Linked DNA regions of Homo sapiens. The protein of the gene in region 3 purifies or fractionates together with the protein of the main gene of each other region. This does not show direct contact. Each region holds a gene or a part of one and is shown on either strand. Other genes may lie near its edges.

What was found.
Region 1: the proteins of PTPN14 (region 3) and STXBP4 purify together in Homo sapiens (affinity purification with mass spectrometry; 4 studies listed by BioGRID and IntAct, with this or other methods). This does not show direct contact.
Region 2: the proteins of PTPN14 (region 3) and WWC2 purify together in Homo sapiens (affinity purification with mass spectrometry, with the first as the bait; 3 studies listed by BioGRID). This does not show direct contact.
Region 4: the proteins of PTPN14 (region 3) and WWC1 purify together in Homo sapiens (affinity purification with mass spectrometry; 8 studies listed by BioGRID and IntAct, with this or other methods). This does not show direct contact.

Annotation. Positions count from the first base shown.
Region 1 is NC_000017.11:54,964,017-54,971,781, forward strand, and holds the start of STXBP4 (syntaxin-binding protein 4), read left to right. Parts: upstream 1-4,748; 5' UTR 4,749-4,799; intron 4,800-7,765. Other genes in the region: COX11 (cytochrome c oxidase assembly protein COX11, mitochondrial), read right to left, coding at 681-836, 4,265-4,630. UniProt on the Homo sapiens protein: Plays a role in the translocation of transport vesicles from the cytoplasm to the plasma membrane. Inhibits the translocation of SLC2A4 from intracellular vesicles to the plasma membrane by STX4A binding and preventing the interaction between STX4A and VAMP2.
Region 2 is NC_000004.12:183,263,248-183,270,271, reverse strand, and holds part of WWC2 (protein WWC2), read right to left. Parts: intron 5,295-7,024; coding exon 5,165-5,294; intron 4,585-5,164; coding exon 4,504-4,584; intron 4,408-4,503; coding exon 4,321-4,407; intron 1,302-4,320; coding exon 1,109-1,301; intron 278-1,108; coding exon of another isoform or gene 230-277; exon of another isoform or gene 225-229; intron 1-224. UniProt on the Homo sapiens protein: Regulator of the Hippo signaling pathway, also known as the Salvador-Warts-Hippo (SWH) pathway.
Region 3 is NC_000001.11:214,380,588-214,387,611, forward strand, and holds part of PTPN14 (tyrosine-protein phosphatase non-receptor type 14), read right to left. Parts: intron 6,336-7,024; coding exon 6,257-6,335; intron 4,202-6,256; coding exon 2,724-4,201; intron 1-2,723. UniProt on the Homo sapiens protein: Protein tyrosine phosphatase which may play a role in the regulation of lymphangiogenesis, cell-cell adhesion, cell-matrix adhesion, cell migration, cell growth and also regulates TGF-beta gene expression, thereby modulating epithelial-mesenchymal transition.
Region 4 is NC_000005.10:168,294,633-168,301,656, reverse strand, and holds part of WWC1 (protein KIBRA), read right to left. Parts: exon of another isoform or gene 5,373-7,024; intron 1-5,372. UniProt on the Homo sapiens protein: Regulator of the Hippo signaling pathway, also known as the Salvador-Warts-Hippo (SWH) pathway.

The DNA.
Region 1 (7,765 bases), on a different chromosome or scaffold from region 3:
ACCTATAAAATCTTTATTAAGAGATTCAGTCATGTTTACTAAACTGGGCAAGCACTAATATTTATAAGGCTTTTCCAATATGGGTTGAAATTAACTCACTCTGGCTAATCCTCAATTAATGAGATTTCAGTTAAAATCTTTCTTACAGTTGGTTAAAATTTTAGGAAAGCGTTTAGGTATAGTCTCAGTCTCACTGGAGTATAACATAACTATTTACTACTTATTGATTATTTCAAAGGCCCTCAATTTGTTTTCTTTTAGAAGGACAGGGATACTTTTGATATAAACCAGTAAACTACTCATTGTAACCAATGCTTTTCCACATTTTTCCCATGTCTTCTATGCCTGAGGAAAAGTCAGGAAGCTATATAGCCTGACGGTTACTGCTACTCCCAACTGTTTCACTCATCTAAACTTAATTTCAAAATACTGACGGGTTCCATTACTATAAATTTTTTTATTCCCATAGACTACTTTTTAATAGTGCTTTACACCTAATGTAACAGAATTTATACTTTAACTTTTAAGTTACATGATAGTAAAAGTCAATTTGGAACAATGGAAAATGCCATGTTTTATTAGAATCATAGTGTTAAAATTAGTCCTCTGACAGTTTAAGTGATGAAAGAAAGGAATTTACATTAATAAAGTAATCTTTTAATGACTGGTTAGTCACTTACATATATTTCTGTTTGCTGAGGTCTAAAGTTCCACTGGAGACTTGCATGCACATCTGCATTAAAGCTAATTTTAATGATTCGATCTTTAACAGGCACCATGTTTTCAATCTTGTCTGAGGCATGACCTGCAACTGCTGATCCTCCAAGTCCAGTAGTCTAGAAAAAGATACCAAATATGTTAAACAATACTTTTAGGTGTTGATGATCTATTTATTTGATAAAAGTTTAAAAACAATGTAGTATTTATAATCCATTTGGAGCCAAGTTTACATATGGTAACTGACCATTGCTGTAACTGTGTCAAGAATCTGACTACTTTTGGGATGTCATGAGCCTGTATTTGTTAAAGTCATTCCTATTTTTCAGCAATCCCTTGGTTACCTGGCATGGTCAAAAATGAGTCTGGGAAAAGCAGGTTCACTAGATAAGTCAACTATTATCACTGATAGTCGAACTCACAATTTCCAGCTTAGCCATTTATAAAAAACACATTTCCCTTTATTGCTAGTATTTCATTAATAGAAATAAAATTTACCCATGACCTTGTAATTCCACTGAAAATACTTAACTCAATTTTTCCATATTCCTGTCTGGTCCTTTTCCATATCACAGCTTTTATAATCCAAATAAGATTGTAGCTTCACTTTTATTAACATTCTGCTTTTCTAAGGTATCACAGGTATTTTCCCACGTTGGTTAATGGTTTTGAATCTTTTCTGTACTTCTCTGTATAGTAGAGCTTTTATATAAATCACTAATCAGAGCACCTAATCCCTATGGCCACAGAAATAATCATAGGGCATCAAGAGTATTTATGTCTGACATTTCTTTTATTCATGACAGTTATTTCCTTGACATCACTTTTAAAAAAAGCCCTTACCCAGCACTTTGGGAAGCCACGGGGGGCGGATCATGAGGTCAGGAGATGGAGACCATCCTGGCTAACACAGTGAACCCCCGTCTCTATTAAAAATAGAAAAAAATTAGCCGGGTGTGGTGACACGCGCCTGTAGTCCCAGGTCTACTCGGGAGGCTGAGGCAGAAGAATTGCTTGAACCCGGGAGGCGGAGGTTGCAGTGAGCCGAGATCACACCACTGCACTCCAGCCTGGGCAACAGAGCAAGACTCCATCTCAAAAGAAAAAAAAAAACGCCCTTACTTCCAAGGTCATCTTTCTTCTGATACTTGAGGTTGCCAGAATTCTGATTTCTGGATAATTTGCCTGTTACTATGCTAGGAAGAAAAAACAAAAAACAAATTTGAGGCTAGGGGAAGACTCCCAGCAAGATACAGTGTTTTAGCATTCTCTGTTTGTTACGCAAGTCAACTAACTTCATTTGACTGCCATGCAACATTACTGAATTACATTATATCCCTAAAAGATGCATCAGAGGGCAAGCCTTTATCCTTGTTTATCCTTCTGCCTGAGTGCTGTGTTTAAGATGTAACTTCTTTTACTAAAAAATTTAAGTCACTTAAATAAAAATACTTTTAAGTGTCCTCCCTCAATAAAGATTCCAATATAGTCTTTGAATATGGGTTCAAATTTCTAAGTTCAATGCCTAAAGTAAAATAGACAAAAAGACTAGAAAACAGCACTAAAAAGATGTCCTGGTCTCTATTCTAGTTGTGCTACTAGCTCTAAGAACCTGATAGATTACAAATTACATTTGGCTTCCTGATCTATGATTGCATGTGGGCACATTTCACACGCAATATTATCAGTTATTTCAGTTTGGGGCAGGGTTTCTCAATCTTAGAACTATGGACATTTTGGGCTGAATAATTTTTTGTTGTTTGGGGGTGAGGCAGTGCTTTGTTGGTTATTTAGTAGCATTCCTAGCCTCTACCTATTAGATGCCAGTAGCACCCTATACCCCCACCTCCATGTTGTGACAACCAAAAATGTCTTCACACATCGCTAAATGTTCCCTGAGGGGCAAAAATCTCCTGGCGGTCTGAGAAGGATCTAGATTTGCTGATTTGGATTCAGTTCTGCTTATGATTTAACCAACTGGTAGTTTTAGAATTCATGCTTGGGCTTGGTCTCTGATGAAAAGTAATTCACATTCTATACTCATCCTCAAAATCAACTATTGCACATTCCCACATAAATGCTGGCATTAGGAGACTATGCCAGAAAAGAAAAGTCCTTTTGTCTTCTGCTTCATCATCTAAAAGAAAGGTAAATTGATTTCCACGGGCATGGTGGCTCACGCCTGTAATCCCAGCACTTTGGGAGGCCAAGGCAGGAGGGTCACTTGAGCCCAGGAGTTGAGACCAGCCTGAGCAACATAGGGAGACCTCGTCTCTACAAATTTAAATAAATAAACGTGCGCGCGCGCGCACACACACACACACACACACACACACACACGGAAAGAGTGAACTCCAGCTAAGAATACCAGTCATGGTGTTAAAAAAACAATTCCCAAACTTTCCTGCACGCTGGAATCACCTAAAACATACTTGACAATTACTGATGCCTGGTTCCCACTGTGGCCTTGTGATAAAATGGGTAATGTGTGTGGATTTTTAGAAGCTGTCCAGGTGATTCCCAATGTTGCTGTACAATGAATTTTGGGAGCCACTATCTTAAACACTTACTGAATCACTTGTGGCATGATTTTTAAACCGAAATTCCTGTCCCTACCCTAGACTTCCTAACCAGAATCTCTGGGGTAGGGGATCCCTGGAACGTGTATTTAACGTTAAGCTCCATAGGTGATCCTAATGGCCAGCCAAAGCTGCAAATTATTAGCTAAGAACAAAGGAGAAATCTCTAAAATACGTGAAACTTGTCTTTGCCTGTGGTTCTCAAAACTTGCCCTCAAAATCAACTACAGGACTTAACTAAAATATAGAGTGCTGGTCCCACTCCCCTTCTTCTCCCCGCCCCACCCCCCCACCCCGTGTTTCTGACTCAGTCCTGGAGTCGGGCCCTAGAATTTGCACTTTTAACAGGTTCCCGGGTGATGCTGATGCTGCCGGTCCTGGGCGCCACACTCCCAGAACCGTTGCAATGTACTTAACAGTTTCCAGGTTAAGTACATTACAGTTATATATTAACAGGGGTGGGGCGAGAGAGCCTCAAAGGCCTAATTCATGCCTCTTTGTACGGAGGAACTGCTAATCCCAGTTTAAGCCCAAGAAACACGAGTAGTCCAATTTCCAGAGTTACCCTTGGCACATAAACCACATGTGGTTTGCAGAGTGAATGTATGAATAATACATTTTAAAAGCGTGTGTGCGCAGGAGGGTAAGGCAGACTGCTAGATACCCGGTTAGAGGCTGCGGACCTTTTTTTTTTTTTTTGGCGAGGTGCAGTTCATAGATCAGGGGTTTCACTCTGCAGCATGGTATAAGCACAATCACTAAGAACTGGATGCTACTTGCAGTTTTGTCACCAATTTCTTTGGTGACTTTGGGTGTTAAGTGACTGTTTTGAACCTCTCTCCTCTTAGGTAGATAATATCGGAAACCTCTTCCACCTACGACCCGCAGAGCGAGGGCTTGTCCCGGGATTTGTCTTGCACCCCCACCTCTCGCGTCTGCGCCACCCTGCGGGCGGCGCCGGCCCCTACCTGGCAATAGAGCCGATAAAGGGGTACGGCAGCGTAGGACGCCCCCAGCATGCCCACGGCGACAGCGGCCACGTAAGTGAGGGTCGTCTTGTTCTGCCGCCGCCGCTCCTCCTCCTGCGCGCGTGTGAAAGGGTTCGAGCTCTTAGGCCGCCGCGGCGGCTGCAATGCTGGATGCCGGGCTCGAAGGCTGCAGCGCTTCCATGTCCCAAGCCACCTCAGTCCTCTCTCGGCACCTCCTGTCCCACTCCACTCTGGCCTAAGAAACGGCTCTACCCTCTCTGCAGCCCTGGTTGGAGACCCAGGGTGGATCCAGCGCCAGCCACAGAAAGGAACGCACCTCCATCCAGGACGCCAGAGCCCTCCCATAACCCTCTGAACTAACACCCACCCGCCTCTCAGGGACGAGAGGTCAAATCTCGCGAGGCGTGCTCCGTCTCGCGAGATCTGGGTTGAGCCTGCCGCTGCCTTGGCTACCAGGCTCCTCAGGTGGCAGCGCTTGCAGTCGGGCTACGGAGGCCGGGTTGCCAGATTACGGGTAAGTTTGCGTTTTGCTTTGTGACTGTTACTCCCACTTCGCTTCTCGCCAGAACGTCTCTTAACATTTAGGAAAATGCGTTTCGCCCGTCCGCGTGCAAGCTTGCCATCACTTGGGGTTGCGCCTGTGATCTTTATTTAAACTCCACCAGCCTTTGTCTCGACCCGGCAGCCCCGGCGACGCTCTCCCGCGGTCTTTTCTCCTGGGGTCCCTTGGCCGCTGGCTCCTGTGCTCACTGCCCTGGACTTAGTTCAAGTATCACCTCTCTCAGGAAGCCTTGCTGTGTTAACCGCAGCCCTCATGGGCACCCACGACACCTGCATTTTCTCAGCCCGTGGGCAGTCGGCTTCCCCTGCTCTGATGCCCCTTACAACTTGCCCAGTGGAAAGCACCACAGCTGGAGCAGGAGGGAGGCTGTCACGCTGAAGTTTGTTCTGGAGAGAGTGACCAGGATAGGAGGGCCATTTAAGGAGAGACTGAAAGAAACGAACCCCGTGGGAGGATGTAATAGCTTTCTTCAGTTGTCCCACAGGACGAACTCGAGGGGGGCAGACAGCATAGCGGATTTTACTGTGTTAGAAGGAAGCATCTTTCTAGAAACTATAAAATAGCAGTTAAGAGCTCAGGTTCTGAGGTTAGGGGGTTCTGGATTTTTACCCGGGTCCTCACCATGGCCCTGTGCCCTTAGGTCAGTTACTTGTCCTCTAAGACCTGGTGTCCTTACTTGTAAAATGGAAATCAGAACAGTAAATGAATAATATTCATATAACGTCTTTCATGATGACTGAGGCATAGTAAGAATGTAGTTAAAAGTTAGGCTGTATTTCTACTTGCTACGTGGCCATTTCTAATGGCCAGAGCAGGTATAATTATCCCCACTATGTGGATGAGGAACTTGGAGGCCTGAGAAATTTTAACTAGTCATTCGACATTTTATTTATTTATTGCCCTCTCAACTGTGGGCCTGACACCAATCGACCTGCTGGCACTATAGCACAGAACAAGTCGGGAGATCACTTCAGTGATGGAGTGTCCTTTCTGCTGAGGGACTCAGAAAATAATCAAGTAACAGTTACCGAAATAAGGGAATTTCAGATAACAATCAGTGCAGTGAAGACAATGTAATAACATAGTATGATTGACAGTCATGAGAAGCGGTAGTAAAGTAAGGACGTTTTGAAGAGGTGACATTTGAGTTTAGATCTGAACGATGATAAGGAGCTACCTACTCAATAACAATTCCAGGCCAAGCAAAGGCCCAGGGGAAGGAAAGAGATAGAATGATTGAAGAACAGAAAGAAGGCCACTGTGTTCCCAACATAGCAGAGTGGAAAGTGGTAGGAAATGGGGTCAGAACAGGTAACAAAGGCCTGGTAATACCAGCCTTTTAAGCCATGTCCAAGGGTTTGGATTTTATTCTAAAAGTAATAGGAAGCTATTGGAATGTTTGACACATACAAGTGATGTGATCTGACTCACATTTTTGAAAAGATATTGATTACTTTGTGGAGAATGGATTAAAGGTAGGGGGAGGAATGGAAGTAGAACAATTAGGAAGCAATTGCAGTAGTCCACATGAGTGATGATGGTCACCTTGAGTGAGTAATTGATTAACTTGTGGTCACAGGGCCAGAAAATTGCAGAACCAATAAAATATAAATACCTTCTGACTTCTTTCTATACTCTGGCATACTGTCTCAAAAATTTCAGGTCTCCATGATTCTACAAATTTATTCATATTGTGTGATGACAGTGTTTGAAAATCTTTTTCATCTGCATGCACCTTGGTTCTTGTACCAGATTCTCAGCTCTTCTAGGATGAGATTTCTCAAAGTTTAATTTTCTTACAGCATAGACTGAAATCCTTGATACCAACAGTACATTTCCACTCACCATTCTGTTTCTCCAGGCACCCCTTCTTTGTAGCTCCAGGTAGCAGTATAAATATATGTCAGTATACAGTCTTTGTCTTGGACTCCAGTATTTCATTTTTTGTATAATAATTGCAAAATGAAACTCTTATGTACAGTGATATTGATAGCAATGAAGTGGTGTTGGTCTTTGTAGCTTTCTACTTTAATAAAAGAAAATATGCATTGTATCTGATCTTAGTATGATAATGTGAAATGACAGTTCATGTTTATGAAATACTTCTGAATGACAACTAAATATTTTGGTTTTTTACTTATATTTTGAATGAAATGTGTAGAACATAATTTAGTTCAATGTCCAATTAACAAACATATTAAACAATTTAAAATATTTCTGCAACATAATAGTACTCAAATTTCTTGTATACCCTTCACCAAGATTAGAGAATGATAAAGATTCTTCAGTCTTTATCTGCATACTTACTTGTTTATTTCCTATTACAAGAACACTTTCTCCTTCCAAACCACAGAGCAGGCATCAAAATCAGTAAGTTAATATTTATCCAGTATTACCATATGTAGTCAGCTTGGACTACCAATAGCAAAATACCACAGACTGGTTGCTTAAACAACAGAAATACTTGTTTCTCAAAGTGCTGAAGGCTGGAAAGTCAAAGATCAATGTATCAACTGATTCACTTCCTGGTGAGGGGTCTCCCTGGCTTGTGACATCTACCATCTTGCTGTGGCCTTACATAGATTGGAGTAAATGAGCTCTTATGTCTCTTATAAGGACACCAATCCCATGAGATCAGGTTCCCACCCTTATGACCTCATTCAACCATAATTACTTCCTAATCCAAATACAGCTACATTGAGGGGTTAGGGCTTCAACATATGGATTTTGGGGGATATATATTAAATTCTTTACATCATGTTATTCATGGACTCTACATAAATTACCCCATTTGTCCCAATCATTTCCATTTTAGATCTAGGATTTAATCCAGGATTACTCGTTGATTTTAGTTGTCATGCCTCTTCAGTCTTCTTCAATCTGGAATAGTTGCCAGTCTTTTCTTGTCTTTTTCTTTC
Region 2 (7,024 bases), on a different chromosome or scaffold from region 3:
AATTCAATTACACTCTTCTTTAAGGCTATCAATATAATATTTATGAACTTTGTGGGAGCCTCTGACATCTATTATACTAAATATGACATCTATGATACTAAAGCCTTTCTGATAGCCTAACGAGTCTGTTAGCTCTGCTTCTTTCTAACTTTATTGTCAGACAATATCATCAGATATTTTTTTCAAGTAAAGAAAACAAGAAGAAAAATTAAGAAGAAACCTACCCCTCTTAAACTTTGTTCATCATGAAACATGTGTTTCTGTGCTTCCCACTGGACTGCAGAGAAAAGCTCAATTGGAGACTCACATTGTTTTCTGAACACATGGCACATCTCTAGATGCCTGCATTTGAATACTTATGTAACTTTACTGGGACATAATGGTTTTCTGGTTATTACGCACAACAGTGTATTAAACTCACAATTAGTTAACTGTGAAGTCTTCTGCTGTAGCATTTAAATGTCATATTGCTTTAAACAGTAACATCACATCTTCCCGAAAGCTCCAATACTGTGGTGGAGGAGAATGAGGTGAATAAGGGTACTATATAGTACTCAGTGGTCTTGCTTAATTTTAATTTGTAACAGTGAATTATGTAATTATGTGGGGATATCTTTTTGATATCTGGCTTCATCGCTTACTAGTTGTATGACCGTTGAATATATTACCTCTCTAAGCAGCTCCTTATCTGAAAATAGTGGATAATCATCCATTTCATAACCAATCTTTCATCAGGTTGTCATGAGGATTAAATGAGATAATATATACACAGCAGTCACGCAAAGCTTGGCATTGGTACTGGGAGTGGTAAGCACACTCCATGAGTGATAGCTGTCACAAAGGTAAAGTTCTTCTGTGGTGAAAAGGTAGAAATAGAAAGCAACTTTTACAGAAAATCACAATTTATAAGCAGATTTTAAAGGTCTGGAATAAGAGAATAAACAGAAACCACTACTTCAGAAAAAAATGAACAAACACTAGATGTATCCCAAGATGTTGGGCAGGTCTGTAGTGATTTCTAGGGCTGGCAAAATAGCAACTACAAAGTATATCCTCAGACCACCCAATCTAAGTGCTATTTGGTAATGGGAATTATGAAGAATCCTACCAGGCATTCTTCCCTTCGGTGTTTACTGACAGAGCAAAGGTCTACCCTCAGTGTCTTCTGTTGTAAGGCTGTTTGGGAAATGGCGACTCTGAACACATCATTGAATAAAATGGATTCTGTGGGCGGATGAACTTTTGTGCGAAACAGACAGCTGACATCAGTTGAGGAAGGAAGAACGGCAACCCTAAAATATCTGCAAAGAACAAGAATAAAATGGATTTCATAGGTACTTTAATTATACCAGATTCACAGCTATCATTTGAAATTATCTGCAAAGAGAGAAAATGAGGGATCGTGGAGTTCAAGATCAATCTAAAGTGTTGCTGCCATCACGGGTCCGTGCTCAGCTGCATAGATGCTCTGTCCTTAACCCACCCGAGCTGACTACGCCCCTGAGCATGCAATGGCCCAGCCTCCACTCACCACGAGACTGCAGCAAAGGCACATGATAGGAAAGTGAAGAGGAAGAAAATCCGTAGGGCAGACGAATTTAACGTCCCACCTGCCCCATGGACAGCCAATTCCAAAATAAGTTATTTCTGAGCCTGGGAAGGTGGGAACACACTAAGTAGATACTGGTGACTTTATCTCACAGAATCCTCATCCTGAGTATTAAACAAGAGATGCTGATGATCACCTCCCAGGAATGGAATACATTATCCTACTAGAGAAAAAGAAAGGCTCAGTAGCATATTGTTAAGAAAATTTAAAACAGATGAAACAACGGTTCAAAAATATCACTGTCTAGCATCTCCAAATTCTGAGATACGACAAACTGTTTTAAGAGTCCCGTGCTTTGTAAAATTCAGAGGAAGAGTTATAGAAAAACAATAACTTCTAATACTACCTTAAAGTGACTCTTCTGAGCACACATTGTATGAGGACCCACAATTCTTAGAAAGAGCGTGAGGTAACTTCCTTTAAATCCCAGGAAGAGAATACCGCTAAGTCTATCCCCTCCACCCCCATTTCCAGGCTTGTCTAATCTAGATTCTAAAACATGCCTTTCTCCGTTAGAAAAACTGTAATTCAAATGCAGAACTGAGGAATGTCATATTATTTTGTATTTCATATCAATATTAATTATGGAGATTCAGCAATGAAAACCTAGTGGGCCTGAAGCCCACTGCTGTTGATTAAAGAGCCTTACTAAGACACAGCTCACTGTCCCTGGGAGGCCGAAGATTCAGCAGAAGAAAATCTTTTCTGCTTGTCACAATTAATAATCAAAAAATAACTTTTGAGGTTGGGAAAAAAAAGAACAATTTTAAGAATATTTCATACTAGCTGTCATGTTTAGCAGTGTCATTATTTAGGCCAAGGCTTTTACATGTGGGTTTAAGGAAAGATTGCTATATATGTCAGGAAGGTTCGCACCAACTCAACAAGTGCCTGCACATTAGCTGGGGAGCCGAAGAGCAAATGTCTGCTCATTGGTTGGGCTGAGTATTTCACTGGTCCTACACTACGCAGGTATCACCATGCCTCCAGAAGGGACTTGGTGACATCCTATGAGGTAAGTGAGAATGACTGTGATTGGTTTAGTTGAAGTAGAGCATATTGCAGGTGCACCCTTACAGTGAGTTTAAAGAAGGTGTGTGTTCTTGGGGTGTTCTGTAGTTTTCTCCTGAAGTTGTGCATTAGTTCTCACTGTTTATTGTTTCAGTCTCTGGTAGACTTGTCTTCTCCATGATTTGCTTTACTAAAAGGCCACCAATGGCATGCTCCAACATCACAGCTTATCTACTGGTAGGGAGAAGTCACAGTTTATATCAAGCCAGTCTTCCTGGACACCGCTGACTGGTGTTTTTCATCTCGCATTTGGGAAGCAGGCTCTCTGCGTTGATCTAGGCACTTCTATGTGATGCCTGCTCTCCTCACTGGTCTCACTAATGATGTGGACAGTCCACACTTTGATTCAGGAAGTTCTCTAAGCTCACCCTCCTCCTGGAATCCTATCCTACCTCCAGCTTTGATGCTTGTCAACACATTAAAATCTACTATCTTGGCTGGGCTCGGTGGCTCACGCCTGTAATCCCAGCACTTTGGGAGACCAAGGTGGGAGAGCCCAGGGAGTTCAAGACCAGCCTGGGCAACCCAGTGAGACCCCATCTCTTAAAAAAAAAAAAAGAAAGCCACTATCTCTATTCTTCTATTGTCAACTACATAATTTCTATCTAGTTCTTTTTCTCTTAGATCCAGTTTCTTCTTTCTGATGATTATTGGAATGTTAGGAGGTGAACTTACAAGCAACTCTGTAGGAAAAACATGCAGAACTCTTTAATTTATTCTATTAAAAGTCTTATCACTAAGGAATATACTCTATCATTAAGGAAAACATTCACCTGGCTGGGTATAGAGTCTTGGGGATCACCCCTCAACAGCTCTTTTTAAATTTCCAAAGCCTTGCACTGCATATTCAAAATATTATTAAGATCCACTTCTTACAGGAAGTTTCAATGCAGAGTGGACATGCATATTCCGGATTCTACGTCATAGTGCTAAGTCGAAGTCTGGATTCTTCCTGGTACTTTCCAGCCATGAGCCCTTCAGAGTCACTGAAACTCTGATGTCAGAAAATGTGAATGGTGGTGTCTAAGACTTCCAGACTTATTTGTCATGAGATCTTTAGGCTTATCTGTCAGGAAGCAAAAAGTCTCTAAGCAATGGACTGTGTAGCATTATGTCATCACTTTGTTGGGATTCTTGGTTTGATGAAGTGAAATAACTTTAAGAACTCACTGGTCACAGGGAAGTAAATGCTTGATGATAAAAACATACTCTTACATGTAGCATGATAAAATGTTTGACTGGCAATGTTGTACAGATACATAAAATTTAATCACTACATTTTAATGTAAAAGATTAGAAAATTCCTTAAACAACAGTAGTAACAATTACACAAAAACAAAAATTTTACCCATATTTCAATCAAATTCCAACACAGCATAAAACAGTGCTTCTGGTTACAAAAAAGAGATTAAATGTCTTGGCTTCTACTCTTAGAAAGAATCAGTTGAGTAAGAATTAAAACTCAATATGTCTTCCTCACATTTCCCTTCTCATCTTTATCTGCCATTCATTTAGACATGATCAGCCCTGCTATGTCTTTTCCGTATCTTCATTTTGATGAACTGTATGATTACAGTGTAAAATTCTCTTACATGGAAATGTTTAAGTTCCTCAATTTGATCTTCGCTGATTTTACTTACACTTTTGAAGTATGAGGTATCAAGAAGGCATGAAGGTTTCGGAGCTGTGCTATAATCACCATGAAACTTGAACTTTTTGCATTGTATCTGTCAAAAGAGAGGCTAAATGAAGTCAGGAATCACCACAGGCCACTTGCCCTGCACAGATGTCAGAACTGCTCCTTTCCCACGTACATTCCTTACCTGAGTCCTATCTGAACCTGGGCGGTCTCTACAATGGCTACATCCTCTTCACTGTATGTGACATCTTCCATTTCACTAGGTCTATATGGACAGGGAGTAGATGAACAGTTAATTAATGGGGTTATCGATTGTTATGGTTAACAGTTTGCCACTTAGTGATTCTGAATGAAAATCCAAATTAACAGCACTCCTATGCCCTCCCAGTGGAACTGATCCCAGCGAAAGCTTACTGTTTCAGAGGCTCTTTTCAAGAAGAGCCCGCCTCTGGGCTTTAGGGCAAAGCCTCTCTGATGACTACTTTCCTTATTACTAGAAATATACCACACCCTTGAGACATTTCAGACTTTCAGAAATACACGTGAGAAGCTTCATGTGCCAAACAGGGTCTGGTGAATTCTTCCAATATTCCCACTAAATTCAAGGTTTTTAAATTCTAAAGAGGGTCAATTGCCTCTGGGTACACCAATCTGTTTATCGATAATTTCCATGGCTAAGTCATTTTTGATATACTGAACTTTTCAGGCACACCACTTCTTTAACGGCTAAAGTCCTTACTAAGCCAAAGAGCGGACTAATGGTAGCAGTCCATTTACAGCATATAACCCACATCCACGGCGATGGAGATTCGCTGGAGCTAAAAGCGCCCCTGCTGAATCCTTACTGTTTCACGAAAGCTTCATAGACCCCACTGTCTCCAGCCACAGACTCATCAGACACAGCAGCCGACACACAAGTGGTTTTCTCCCCAAGCAAGTGGATCACTCTTCTTTTTGGTAATGATTTTTCCACATCTATGGAGGGGAGGGTGAGAGCACTAATCAGAATGTCTTATTTGGAAAAGTTAAGTATTAAATACATACATAGTTTGGTCATGAGCAATCCAAAATAAGATTTCCTTCTGGGAGTCAAGGATGTTAATATTCAAATCTACAGCTGTAAACAACTCAAGGCACTATGACTTATAAGATTCCTGGGACGCCAGTTTTTTCAGTCATTACTTGGAAGAGAATATGGTTTTTCTTTGTCCTGAAATATTTTAAGGGAAGGGATGAATTACACAAATTCTCATTGGTCCTTAGTCTCTTTCTTTCAAGCATTCACTGCAGTGTTCATATATTCAGGAATAGGAAATGATCTATCTCCCTCAAGTGACATTTCTATCACAGAGAGAGCTTCTAGCTACTCAATGGATAAGTTTCCACCTCTTTTGGTCTCCCCTTCTCTCCACATGCCATATCCTACATCTCCTGTGCTACTATTCTAACAGAAATAAAGAAAAAATGTCTTTGACTCACAGGAACTCCTCACCAGCCAATACCATTAAAAAACTTTTTGTGCTACTGAATCTTTAGTACCAATGACCACTTAACTTTTATCTCGAACTCATATTCATACACCAGCATCCTGCAGTGAGCAAGGAACATTCATTTAAGGCTGTGCTCTGTACTGTAATGAGCTGCAAGCCTGTGGTGCTCTTTCATCCTCCAGTGAGTGAGAGTGAGCGCAGGGATCTGTATTGGTATGCATTTTGGCCCCCTTCTGAGCCGTGACTTTACATCTTGTGAAGATGTTTAAGTTTTAAGGCTTCAGATTACAGGATTGATTGCTGCATTTTCCACTTTATTTCTGGCAGTGGGAATGCTTTTTCCTTGATGATGAAGTGCCTTCTCTCCGCCCACCCCCCTTTGTGAAGGGTGAAGGTGATGACATGATTTATTGATTACCCCCAGGAATAACCACAGCAGCCTGAAATTGACTTTGACAATGACAGTGACTGACTGCGGAAGGCCTTTGCAGTTATTCCAACGTGGTTGGTGTCATCCAGCAGGGACTGGCACTGGACAGCAAAGTTTACGTAAAAGGGACTTGACTTTACCTGCCTAAGCCTCTAGAGCACTGAGGGAGATGACAAACGTCCCTGATAGGGAGCCACCACCCCACATGCAGGGCAGACGTCCCCTGAAAAAAAGTGCTGGTGACTTGAAGATAATTCATCTTTCCTTTTTTTGAGACAAGGTCTCACTCCTGTCACCTAGGCTGGAGTGCAGTGGTGCAATCTCAGCTCGTCGCAGCCTTGACATCCTCCTGCCTCAGCCTCCTGGGACTACAGATGTCTACCACCATGCCCAGCTAATTTGTGAGAATTAGCCTTTATGGTTAAATATACGCTTTCACTTGTTTTCAGACATGCAACTGAATATTATCTGCAATCAAAGCTCTTGGATGTATTTTCTCTTAGGGTAACTTTTTAACAGCAGTTTTCTAATATATGCATTTAAAAAGTTAAAAACTGTTTCACAAAGGTTCAGAGATACTGTCTCCATCCACAAACTTTTCAGACACAGCAAGACCCAAGTGTCAGGAGCAAGGCATGGGCCAACCAGACACACTTGCAAGACAGGACTCCCAGACCTCAGGGTTACTGGGTGGGTGACAGACTTTAGGCAACTTTTTCCCTCATCACTCTCTCCCCTCTTCTCCAGCATCCAGCCTCACTTACTGCCCCTCCAAATTGGCTGAA
Region 3 (7,024 bases):
TCCAGGAGAGCTGCCCAGAGGGCAAATTCTCACCATACCTGCACACCCCGCCAGCCCCTGAGTTTTCTTTTGCTAAAAGTTTCTCATTGTGTTCTGATCAAGAGGGCCCTTAGAATGGCCATCACCTCTCATGAATTCCCATCAAGCTGGCAAAAGCTGCCCATAGTGAGGAGAGCAGAGAAGTATCTGACCTGTGGGGATGTTGCTTAGGCTATGGGGTGAGTTTTTGCATTAAAAACAAAACAGATGGAGACTCATCTTGGGCTCAAAGCCACTGGCATTGTCACCACCTTGCCTGGCCTCCTGGCTCACTGAAGCAGCTCCTAATCCAACTCTAAGGTCTGCCGGTGTCCTTGAGCTCCTGAGTGTAGCAGATTTGGGGGAAAAAAAAATCAACAGGGAAAATGAAGTAGAAATGGGGTAATTATTTTCTTGAACTAAAGGTTAATGGCTAAAATTTGCTAGTCATTATTACCCACATGAATGGAATGGAAAAGCATCTGGAGAAAAAACAATAGTGAAAATCTCCTTGTTCCTTTGTGATAATGCAAGGAGCTCTAAGGAGGAGACCCATGCCAAGATTTTGGCTACAGGCTATTTGTTTAATACGAGTAACAAGAGAAGAGGATGAATACAACCAAAATGAGGTTATGGGACCATGTGGACATCATTAAGTATCAAGTTGGCAGGGGAAATAGCTAAATTAAATGCTTAGACTGATAGGTTCTTGATGCTAATGTTGCTTTTAAGTGGTCTGGAAGAAGTATTGAAAAATCATTTTCTACCAATAAATTGCTTTATTCCATGCTGGGAAAGCTCTCTCCCAACAGCACCTACCCATTTCTTCCATTCCAAGCCAAAGGTTTTCTTTGCTAGAGGCAAAGGTACACCTTGCACAATTTCCTTCTAGGTTTGCAAAAAGTCATATCTGTATAAAAATCTCTTAGCACTACTCTAGTGGGGCTGGCCAGAACTGTGAGGTTGAGAATGTTCTTAAGGTTTTCCAAAAGTAACAAGGTTGCTACAGATTCAATTTCTGACCCCAGGAACTTGGCTTCCTTAAAACTTTGGGCCTTGATTGTTCTTTTCAGGTTGAATCCCAGTGATGGGTTAGGAAGACCTGGAAATGAAGGTGGCCTAATGGAATCCATCAAAGCAAATTTTAAGTTACAACTGTTTCGGAGTTCCTAAAATTAGGCTTGGCTACCTTATGGTGCAGCCATGGTGAATGAAGAGAAGTCAATCTGGCTTTGATTAGTTCTAGTTAATAGGTTTTTTTTAAAGGAGTGAAAATGTTCATGGCAAGCAGCAATGGAGATTTTTTTTTGTTTTTCTGAGACGGGGTCTTGCTCTGTCATCCAGGCTGGAGTGCAGTGGTGCCATCTCGGCTCACAGCAACCTCCGCCTTGTGGGTTCAAGTGATTCTCCTGCCTCCCTCCTGAGTAACTGGGATTACAGGTGCACGCCACCACACACGGCTAATTTTTGTATTTTTAGTACTGATGGGGTTTCACCATGTTGGTCAGGCTGGTCTTGAACTCCTGACCTTGTGATCTGCCCACCTCGGCCTCCCAAAGTGCTGGGATTACAGGCGTGAGCCACAGTGCCCAGTCGAGATTTTTTAAAGTAGCTATAATCCAAACATTTTCTCATTAGTAAGAGCAGATTCACTTCGTTGTTCTATATGTGCCTGCATAGTCCTGTTCTGACAACTTAACTGTCTCCCCAAATTGTACAATATATTTTTTTAAAGCGATGAGGTTTAGTCCTGTCATCCAGGCTGGAGTGCAGTGGCAAAATCATAGGTCACTAAAGCCTTGAATTCCTGGGCTCAAGCGATCCTCCCACCTCAGCCTCCTGATTAGCTAGGACTACAGGCTCCTGCCATCATGTCTGGCTGGTTCTTTTTTTATTATTATTTTATTTTAGAGATAAGATCTCATTATACTGCCCAGGCTGGCTTCATACTCCTGGCTTCTAGTGCTCTTCCTACCTCAGCCTCCCAAGTAGCTGGGACTACAGGTGTCCCCCACCATACCTGGCTCTGTACATATTATGAAGAAGAGCTATTCATGTCTAGTACTAGGATGGATCTTCAAGTGGTAATATGTATGTATATATGTATGTGTGTATTCACGTATGTGTGTGAATTTTTGACAGAATAAGTTCAATGGAGAATTATTTATCCAATTACTAAGTTATATATCCAATTACTATAATTTTCTTGAATCTGTGTGAAACATCTATTGAAAGAAAATCTGAATACAAAGCTAGACATATCACAGTCCAGACAATACTGGTGAGTCTTGACTTACGGATCTATACAGAAGGCGGTATAGGGATGTTGCTCTTTAATACCTAACTGGATGTGGGGGACAGCTTTCCTTCAAGAAAACAAAACACTAAAAGACACAGCAAGGTGAACTTCCCCAATACCAGCTTACCCAATTGGAAGTCTGAGCTTTGAATAAACAGCAAAATGCTGGCTGAGGCACTGGCCTCAATAACGTACCAAGTACACCTGTTAGAAGCCACAAATGAGAATGGAAGATTTATCTGAAAGGGCAAAAACTCAACATTTTGTGTAATAAAGTACTACCTTTTAAATGCTCAATGATTCCTTAAAAACCTACCACGTTCCCTGCATAAGCCCTGCCCCTTGCTCAGTGCCTGAAGCATGTGCTTTCACACTGGAAAATGCCCTGGGAGAGGAGGACACTCACCCTGATCATCATCTCTCTCTCTATAATGCTGTCTTCCAGGGAAAACATTTCAGACACAGGTCTCTCCTTCACAGGCTCTTTTTTGACCCGCTCCTTCACACTAGTCAGGTCGGGTTCCGAGATGGATGGGCCGAGAGAGGCCCCGTTGACAGCCGGCGGGTCAGTCCGAGACATGCTGATGGCCTTGGCTGGCCCATGCCTCAGCACCCTGGCTCTGGCCATGGCGGGAGGAAGGCTGGCTTGGTCCTGCCTCAGAGCCCCATTGCTCACACTCTTCCTTGGACCGGGGTACTCAGGCGGGGGCTTGTTGGGGATGCGGGCCAGGGCCGCCTGCAGCTGGGCACTGTACTCCATCTTCTCCCGGAGCATGGGGATCTGGGGCACCGATTCTGGAGCCTCCTCCTCCTCCTCCTCACTCTCGCTGCTGTGGATTAGCATAGTGGCATCAGAGAAGGTCTTCTTGTGGTGATACTGAGGGAGCTGGGGGACCTCGTGGCTGCCTGACCCCTCCTCGGGCGGTCCCTGCTCCCGGAGCGTGTTGCGGCGAGCCATGGGGAGGTGGAGCGACTTGAGCGTCATGGCCTCCATGCCCCGCACCATGCTGTTCATCACCTCCAGGCTGTGGCGCTTGTTCACAGTGCCGTGGTGCTTGGTGGCCGTGAGGGGCTCGCTCACCTCCTGGAGAGACTGATGAACCACCGGAGAGCTGTCCTCTTGGAAGGTCTTCACCGAGAGCTGCACCTTCCGGGTCACCAGGTCCGGGCTGCTGCCGCTGACGTACTTGTGGCGGTGGCTGGCCAGGTCTGGGGTGCTGGTGGCAGGTCGTGGCCGTGGGTAGGGGGGCGGTGGCCTGAAGAGATAGTTCTTAAGCATGTGGGCCGTGCTGTAGTTATGGCTGCCCTGCAGCTGCATGTTGGCCAGCTCTGGGGTGCTCACCGTGTGCGAGATGGCGCTTGCCCCCGGCTTGCTTGGTACCACATTATTCTTTGGGTTCCTCTGGTCAGATGGACTGACAAGTTTGTTGCTGTAGACCCCCTGTGGCCCATAAGGGACAGTGTAGGGGTGCCTCTCCCGCATCTCCGGTTGGCTGTACACCAGATCCTCTGGCTGGTTGTAGGCATGGGTGTTGATAATGTTGAGGTTTCTCAGAGACTGGCTCTGGCTGTCTGTATGCAGGATCCCCCTCTTCATCTGGCGCATGACTGTCTCATAATCGGGGGTTGGCCTGTACGAGGGCACGATGATCGCGCTGTGCCGGTGGCTCGGGATGTAGTCGGCCCGCATGATGTCACTCCCAGGGATACTGAGGTTGGAGGATACAGGGGAGGCCTGGATGAAACTTTGCGAGCAGTTGAGGGAGTTGACGCTGTGAACGCTACACACGCTGCCATTGGTGACAGTGCCATTTAAATAATTTAAGTCCAGGCTGTTGTGAGAGTTGCAATACAAGGCTTCTTCATTCCCATGAAAAATGCTGTCTACAAGAAGTCAAACAAAGGCACGTGAACCTCCAAGCCATCCTGCCACAACAAAGTACATCCTCATACTCATGAGGTGACTTTTAATTTAAACAAATCATAAAAAGTGAAATCCCATGGTCTCCACCCACATGTTCTATAGAATAACAGATACTATCTTGGATGAAATGCCAACATACAGAAAGAACACCTTAAGACATACTGAAAAGAAAAAGGGAACCTAATGGAAGAAGGCATGCACACATTTGGAGTAAGTGTCGCTTGAGGAAGTTCTCAATTTTGCCATAAGCTTTGAAATCAGGCACCAACAACAGCCCTCCAGTTGGGGAGGCCTGTCCTCTTGTGCAGGGCTCGGCAATAGGACTGAATATTTAGACAAGACAGTCAAGAACTTTAATAGGGCAATAGATTTCAATTACTAAGTGCTCAGAGCTGCTCTTCCTGACGGCAATGGAAAAAGCCCCTTCACCCAGGGGACTGCAGGGCATTCTAAAGACACAAAACAAATGATGTAGCCAGGGTGTCCGCACAGCTAGTTCATCCTGAGCAGCAATAAAGGGCAAAATTAGAATCAAGAGTTCTTTTTGGTAATTCCCCAAATCCCCTCTAGATCTGGTTTCATCACTTAGGTCAATTCAAGTAAAAATTAATTATAGTTTAAAGAGGTACCTAAAGAGAGAAAAAGCAGATTTCTACAATCAGGCCCAACCTGATTGATTTCTACAATCAGGCCCAACCTGATTGATTTCTACAATCAGGCCCAACCTGATTGATTTCTACAATCAGGTGTCTGGTGTTCTCTTACACACACACACACCCCAAGGAAGGCAACCTCTTGCCTTTCTGTGGCCAAAATATATTCATTTTCACACTACAGATTTAAACATGAGCAAAACAGAGAAACAGAAAATCAGAGAAGGTGAAAAACAGAAAAGGTGACTGAAGACATTCAACTGTCTGAAGAGGAAGAATGTGGAAAGAGATCTGATCAGATGAGACAGGCACAAAAAACAGGGGGAACACAGAGACAAATGTGCCGCAATTTATCCACCTCCCATGGGGTTTGGCGCCTTCCCATAGAAATGTGGTAACTTTGCCAGTCTCCTTATAAAAAGTACTATTTTTATTAAATTAAATAGTCTTGATTGTCTTGGTTTTCATGCTCACACTTTCAGACAGCAGAGGATTCAAAATGGCCAGGAGTTGATAACGTAGAAACTATATTATCCATTTACTACATTTCCAACATCCACGGTTTTCTACCATCTCTCTTTTTGAAATGCAGTTAGCATAACGATTACAAGTTACCGATTTTCATATATAAGTTCCATCATTAATCTCTCTGTATTCCAATTTCTATAACTGTAAAATAGAAATAATAATAGTACCTATAGGTTTATTTTAAGGATGACATAAGACAATATATAGCAAGTACTTACAGCAATACCACAATTGCTCTATGAATGTTAGTTGTTATCATGGAGTCATTACTAGCAGAAGAAGCTTTTTCACACATTTTGCATGGGAGATGTTTTGGGAGAAAGAGAGGAATAAAACAGATTTACCTTACTCAGAGAAGAAAAAAGCAAGTGTACCAAGAAAGGGGCTGGAGAAAGAGATGAGAAAAACAGCTAAAAGAAAAGGCTGACTTTGTTTATTTCTTCCAATTATTCTGCATGCCCGTGTTCTACGTCACCATGAAAAGCTGAGTGACTGCCACGAGCTTTCTGATACTGGCAATGAAGGTGAAGTGCATTCGCTTGGGCTGAGCTGTCATACTCTCTTCTCTAAGCTCCCTTAGGAAAGGGAGGAGAAAAGGACTTGCTCGCTGCCTTGGCCCCGACTCCCTGAGCAGCCAATACTGGGGAAATTTTTTGATCAGAGGTAACTGACAGTCTAGGCCTTCCACAAACTGAAGCTGTTAGCTACTGTCATTCAGACGATGACAAAGTTGAAAAGAAAGCATCCCTGTCATCTTTTTTTTAAAGCCTTCTTTACTGCTTACTGGTATTCAACTTTTTGTCTTAAGAAGGGAGAACGGCAAGCCAGAGTTACCTTGCGAGGTGTGCGTTTCCGAGTAGTGCTCACCACACTGGACGTGAACGGGAGGCAGGATGTACGGCTGCTGCCTGGGCTGAAACAGAGAACACAGAGGAGGTGGGGAGGCCTGGGCAGACACGGCTGGTGACTCACACAGCCGGCCCAGGCACACGGCAGTCCCGCCACGTTGTAAGGGAGGCTCGTGGCAGCTGCTGTCCCTGCCACCCCTTTGACTCAACCTTCTTCTACCCGTCTGCACTCCCATCTCATCACTAAGTTTGGAACTGGAGAAACAGTAAGGGAGAAATGAAGTTGGTTCAAGATCAGAAAGAGAAAGAGGTCACCATCAAAGACTAAATGTAACCATTTACTATCTATGTTCTAATATATTTGCAAAGTTCTCTATGCCTTCTTTCACAAGAATAACTTTTAGAAAAGGTAAATTATTCAAGGCAGGCAGATTGACTGAGCTCAGGAGTTCAAGACCAGCCTGGGCAACACATTGAAATGCCATTTCTATTAAAAATACAAAAATTAGCCAGGCATGGTGGCGCATGCCTGTAGTCCGAGCTACTCGCGAGCTGAGGCAGGAGAATCACTTGAACCTGGGACTTGGAGGTTGCAGTGAGCCATGATCGTGCCACTGCACTTCAGGTTGGGCAACAGATTGAGACTTCGTCTCCAAGAAAAAAAGAAAAAAATTATCTGGGCGTGGCGACATGCACCTGTAGTCCCAGCTACTTGGGAGGCTGAGGCGTGAGAGTCGTTGAACCTGGGCGGCGG
Region 4 (7,024 bases), on a different chromosome or scaffold from region 3:
CTTTTTTTTTTTTTTTTTGAGACGAAGTTTTGCTCTTGTTGCCCAGGCTGGAGTGCAATAGCACAATCTCGACTCACTGCAACCTCCGTCTCCCAGGTTCAAGCGACTCTCCTGCCTCAGCCTCCCGAGTAGCTGGGATTACAGGCGCCTGCTACCACGCCTGGCTAATTTTTTTGTATATTTAGTAGAGATGGTGTTTCACCATGTTGACCAGGGTGGTCTTGAACTTCTGACCTCAGGTGATCCACCCACCTTGGCCTCCCAAAGTGCTGGAATTACAGGTGTCAGCCACTGCACCCAGTCCCACTTACTATTTTAAAGTGACAAAGCCAGACTTGACTCAGTGTCCTCTAATGATCTTTATGGAGAGCTTATCTACTACAGGGAATCGTGAATCGTGTGGTATGCAATCCCATGTTTGGGTGGAACAACAAACACATACACATTTTTTTCCATAGTGGAAAAATGAGCTTGTCACTTGACTTGTCTCTCGGCCTCAGTTTCCTCATTTGCAAAATGCCATAAAAATATGATGAGCAATAGTGTTTGGCACGTGACAGACAATGGATAAGGATCTTTAAAGACAATCATGATTATTTATCACCATTATCACCAGGTGCCAGTTATTGTTCTCACTGTTAGTGATACAAAGACAAACAATGCACTTAGAAGAAATTCCTGGAATACAGTGAAATGCTCACAGCCCGACTCTCCAAGAAAAGCCACGACAGATGTAGGACTGGAAGGCTGTCCCAGGGTCATCTCATCCTAGCAGCCACCTGATGCCTGCATCTTGACATTTTATCCTTCCAAGTCTGTTACCCGTCAGTGGATCCCAGGGGCTACCCCAGGGACGAATCCAACAAGTAACCACCACTGGGCGGGGAGGAAGCCAGTGTGGGGGTTGCTACCAAAACAGGCCTGGGCAACAGCAGGCAGCCGACTGGGGAAAGTCAGCAGCTGCAGTTGGCCTGGTGTCCTCGCTGCCAGAGAGTGATGAATGGAGCAAGAGAAGAAAAAAAAAGCCAACAAAGGTGTCCCTAATCTTGATGCAGCTTCATTTTTTTTTTTTTTTCTGGCTGACCATTGAGTGAGAACTTAAGCCTCCGTCCCTTTTCTTTGGCAGACATTTGAAACTGAAAGATCTCATTTCTTCCCAACAGTGAGATGTCATGGGTAGAAGCATTGAGCAGGCAACTGGCAAGGGGTGGGGGGTGGGGAGAATGGGCATGTGACCCACCACACTTGTCCTTTTTCTTTCCCTCCTCCCCACTCTCTGCTCCACCCCCTCTTCCCCATCCTGCATCTTTAGAGAATATTCTCCGCACACAACAGTGAACGCCTGCCCCCTCCTCCCGCCACCCCATTATTATTTTTCTGCTCAGGAACTAAAGGCTAAATGGCCTGCTGGGGAAGGTCTAATAACAAAATGTCACTGTATCCAGTTTCTTAGTTTTCTCTTTCTTTATCTCACTCTGAAACGGATTCGAGGCAGCAGCAACTGAACCTTTGCTGTTCTACCTAAAGGTGTGCAGCCAGCTGGCCATCTCCATGCTGGGAGAGGCAAGACGGGAGTTTTTTGCCCAGATCTAGCCCTCAGCCCTGTCCAAGTGGAGGTGCTTCCCTTAGCAAATAGCGAGGAGCTGGTGATAGGGATGTCACCAGGCCACTTCTCCAAGTGAAGTGGATTCCTCTTATCCAGGGCCCCTTGCTGAACTGGAGGCTGCAGAGCCTCATCACCTAGCACCACATGTGGCTGGAGAGAGCTCCTGATACACGTCATGGACAGCCACCTGACATTAGGTCGGCATTCCCTGCAAGTGCCACTGAAGCCTGATCAAGGCTTCTGCCACTGAGGGAACCGTGCAGCAAGACGGTGGCCACCTTCGACTCACACTTATTCTAGCCCTGTTTCTCCTTACGTGCACCTGAACTTGGCGTGCCAACCTTCCAGGTAACTAAGGCAACCTGATTCTCTTCCCTTCAAAAGGGCAGTGTTCTTCTCACAGCAATCTGGGACCCCAGGGAATTGGAAAATTGGGTCAGTTTGGATAAGCCCTCTCCCCGGGAGGGGGAGGGATGGCGACAGAGAGGAACGGCCTTGGCTACTCATTCCCTGGCTGTTGGGAGCATTTACCCAAGCGACTTGGAAAGGACTGTGAACTCCTTGTACACACTGCATCCTTCAAAGAGTCCCTCTGCCTCCATCTCTCTCTCTTCTCCCATCCCCAAAGCTCTGGTTAGCCAGCTGCTCCCAGAAGGTGGAGTTTATGCCAAACAGTCTCCTAAGCTGCCATGAGGATCTCACTGGCTTCTCTGGTTAAGGCTCCTTAGCAAAGTCTCTCCCTGAGATCCACATCAGGTTCACCCATTTTAAGAATAAATGGTAACTCTCAAGCCCAGCTGTCAACAGGGCACTCTGGGGCCCTGAGATGGATTAATAAGCCAGGACAGAGCCAGACCAGGCTACAGCTAGTATGAGTGTAGATGCAAGAATCCAGCTAGGTGGGCTCCAGTCCTGGATGCAACACCTGTTGGTGATCTTGAGCAAGTTACTAAACCTTTTTTTTTGAGATGGCGTTTCGCCCTTGTTGCCCAGGCTAGAGTGCAGAGGCGCGATCTCAGCTCACTGCAACCTCCGCCTCCTGGGTTCAAGCGATTCTCCTGTCTCAGCCTCCTGAGTAGCTGGGATTACAGGTGCGTGCCACCACACCTGGCTAATATTTTGCATTTTTAGTAGAGACGTGGTTTCACCATGTTGGCCAGGCTGGTCTTGAACTCCTGACCTCAGGTGATCCACCCACCTCGACCTCCCAAAGTGCTGAAATTACAGGAGTGAGCCACTGCGCCCGGCCGGTTACTTAACCTTTCTAAATTTCAGTTCCCTCATCTGAAGTACTTACCCCATATGGCTGTTGAAAAGATAAAATGAGGTCACAAAATAGAATGCTTAGCTCAGTGGGCAGCAGAGAGTAAACACTCAATAGATGCTGGTATTGACTATTATTTTATTCTTCTCTGGGTTACCAAATCTCTTGCTTCTCCCTATTATCTATCCTAGTGTTTTTAAACCTCATTTCTTTCTTAATAATTGACATAGGATGTTCCCAGGCATGGTAGACTCCCATGGAATACGTAGATCTTAAACTCAAGCCTCAGAAAAAGATAAAAAGCCCTCTAATCACTTGTATGTAAGTATTATTATTATACATCTACAGGTATTAGTGGATCATTAAGAGCAGCAGCATGGAGAATAAAGAGGTTCTGGGTAACTTCCCTGGCAGACTGGTTATAACTCTCACTTAAGAAACCTTGTTGGGTGGGGCACAGTGGCTCACACCTGTAATCCTAACACTTTGGGAGGCTGAGGCAGGCGGATAACTTGAGGTCAGGAGTTCGAGACCAGCCTGGCCAACATGGTGAATCCCTGTCTCTACTAAAAATACAAAAATTAGCTGGGTGAGGTGGCATGCACCTGTAATCCCAGCTACTCGGGAGGCTGAGGCACGAGAATTGCTTGAACCCGGGAAGTAGAGGTTGCAATGAGCTGAGATTGCACCACCGCACTCCAACCTGGGTGACTGAGCAAGACTCAGTCTCAAAATAAAATAAAATAAAATAAAACAAAGCTTGTTGGAATATGACATTAGACTGACAATAACTCTAAATCCATTTTAATTGATTATAAAAATAGGAATTCACTTGCAATCACTGGAAATGTAATCATTTGACATACAGCAAATTCCTATGACACAACTCACAAATGATTGTGACGCACGATGAATGCAACTTCCTGGTCTATACAATCAAAAACGATTATGGAGAATAATGCAGCCATGCACATAAAATATGTGTGAATTATTATCATTGATGAGAAGGACATAGATCTGACTTTTAGTAAAAAATTTATATAAGAGAAAGAGAAAAAAGAAACTTTTACTAGACTCGAGGTTGGCATTTATTTTCTGTGTGACCTTGGGCAAGTCACTTGTCTCTGGTTCTCAATTTCTTTTTTTTTTTTTTTTTTTTTGAGATGGAGTTTCGCTCTTGTTGCCCAGGATGGAGTGCAATGGCGCGATCTTGGCTCACCACAACCTCCACCTCCCGGATTCAAGCGATTCTCCTGCCTCAGCCTCCCGAGTAGCCGGGATTACAGGCATGCACCGCCATGCCTGGCTAATTTTGTACTTTTAGTAGAGATGGGGTTTCTCCATATTGGTCAGGCTGGTCTCGAACTCCTGACCTCAGGTGATCTGCCCGCCTCAGCCTCCCAAAGTGCTGGGATTATAGGCATGAGCCACCGCACCAGGCTGGTTCTCAATTTCATCAGTGAAATGAGAGGCCTGGATTTCACGAACAGAAAGGTCCACTCCAGCTGCAAAATTGGGTAGATATGCAGCATCCATTTGATGCTGCTGTTTCACAGGTACGTTCTAGGAAAAGTTAAAGGAACTGGCATTCCTCAGTGTCCCCTGCATGTCAGACTTCAGGCTTGCTGCCCTACCTACCTTCACTTACTTATCACCCATAACTACCCTTGATGGTTGATGGACATCTTTCCATTCATTAGAAGGCAAACGCAAGGTTCAGGGACAATATGTCAATTACCAAGGTAACTCAGGTAGCAAGTGGCAGATCCAAGATTCCAGGAGCCAAAGACTCACTTATCTACATTTGCCCTCTAGGTGCCCATGACCTGACCACACCAGAATGGTCACAGGTAAGTGAAATCATGCCTGTTTTGGCTCCATTTCCCAAGGCCAAATTCCTTAGGCACTGGAGCAGTGGTCTTGATTCTGCAGCTAACTCAGCAGGAAGTAAAATGAGGCAGTGGTTAGAAATGTGTGTTCTGGTGTGAGCCCGCCTAGTATTCACATCACAGCTCCACAAAGGTTGAGGGGCTTTACCAAGCCTCCCTGAGCATTGGGTAGTTCAGGTGGGTAATAATTGTACCTAGTCCCAGGGTTGTTAGGAGGATTTAAAGAGATAACCTATGTAAAGCTCTCAGCAGACTGCCTGAATATAGTAAATACCCAATCATTATTTGCTACCTAGCTAAACAGGAGGCCTTTCCATGGTGACAAGCAATTTCCAAGCTTATCTATGGCAGGGGTTATGAACCTGGGGTCCAGGAGGTCCCTGAAATTATGTGCAAAAACCTTTTCTCTAGGAAGAGTTCTGAACCTTTATCAGTCTCATAAGGGTCTGTGACCTGACAGAGGTTTAGACTTTTTGACTGCTGTAGACCTGACTTCCTACCATATCAATTATTTCTGAAATAACAGGGTTAGCAAAAGATCCTCAAGTCATGGGAGAAGTTGCTGGATCCTCTCAGCATGGCCTCTCCAGCCATGTGTGCCTCCGGTACTTACCATACAGACCCAGAAACTGCCCAGAATTCCCAGGTGGTTCCTATGAGAAGGTCTGAATACAAATCGCACAACAAGAAGGAATCAGGCTGCAGGAACCTTCTCTGGGAGGGCCAGCCCCAAAGATCTATTCTTCCTCCGAGAACAATCGGTGCATTTGTTTTGCATACCACGAAGTGAAATACACAGGACGCTGGCCCCTTCGCTAGAGCTCACAAAAGCACCCAGAGTTACTCCGCAAAAGGAGCACGGCTCCAAGGTGCTGTTCAGACCTGATCCACAGCACCTGATTCCCGAAGGGCCTGTCACCTTCCCAGGCTGGCCTTGACTCAGGAAAAGCCTGTGGTGCTGCTGGAGCCTTTGGCCCAGTGGGCAGGACCCAAGCTGCCCACTGGACCCTCTCCGGTTGTTGGGACAACCATCCTCAGGAATTTCGGCCTCCCAGTCTTCCCCTGGGTGAGAAGGGGAGAGAGTTGGCAAGGCTGGCTGCTTGGCTGCTCTTCCAACCCCCTGGTGAAAGGGGAAGCTGAAAACTGGATTCCCTACCCCCAGCAGCTCCTGGCCGGCCAGCACACAAAACAGCTCAGCCCCAGAGGGAGGAATGTGCCAAGACATTCTTTAGGGTTGGTAACCAGAGACGCTATTTTGTCCTTGGTGGCTAAGAAATCACTTTTCTGACTGAAGGACCATTTGACTTACTTCTTTTAAATTCAGGGGAATGGGTGGGCATCTCCATGATTCAGGTAAGGAAAAATCCAAGGCAAATAAACACACACACACACACACACACACACACACACACACGGAGTAGAAATTTTTAGTGCAATTTTTTGTCTCACAGCATTAATTAATTGCAGGGATATAACTACCTTGGCAGAATTTTTTCTCCCCAACCCACCACCCCCCGGAATAAGTTTGGCTCTTTTCAGCTTTGTTAAATTTCTTCTTCCTTTTTCTCATAGCCCATCCCTGTTCCCCCTTCTCCTCTCATGGAGTCTGGAGAGGTAAGAGCGGCAGAAGGGTTTGAAATAATATTTAAGAGCTGGCAGGCCCTTGAAGACCATCTAACCAACCCACTTCTCAAGCACTCAAACCTCAGAGAGGTCAAGTGATTTGCCCAAGGCCACACAGACAGAACTAAAAGGCAAAAATGGGGTATGCCGGAGGGAAATTCCAGAAAACCACAAGTGGCTATCCTCCAATTAGCACTTTTCCAAAACATACAAAGCTGGACCACAATAGTGACCCCCAGAGTTGACATGAGACCCCCTCAGGACCCCAAGTTCAGGGGCCCAATACCACCCCAGTCCAGGTGGGATGACAAGGAGGTACAGAGATGAAGTTTATAAACCAGTGACCCAAGGCCAAGCGTGGTGGCTCACGCCTGTAATCCTAGCACTTTGGGAGGCTGAGGTGGGCGGATTGCCTGAGCTCAGGAGTTCAAGACTAGCCTGGGCAACACAGTGAAACCCCATCTCTACTAAAATACAAAAAATTGGCTGGATGTGGTGGCGTGCACCTGTAGTCCCAGCTACTCGGGAGGTTGAGGCAGGAGAATCGCTTGAACCCAGGAGGCAGACTTGCAGTGAGCCAAGATCGCACCACTGGACTCCAGCCTGGGCGACAGAGCGAGACTCTGTCTCCAAAAAACAAAA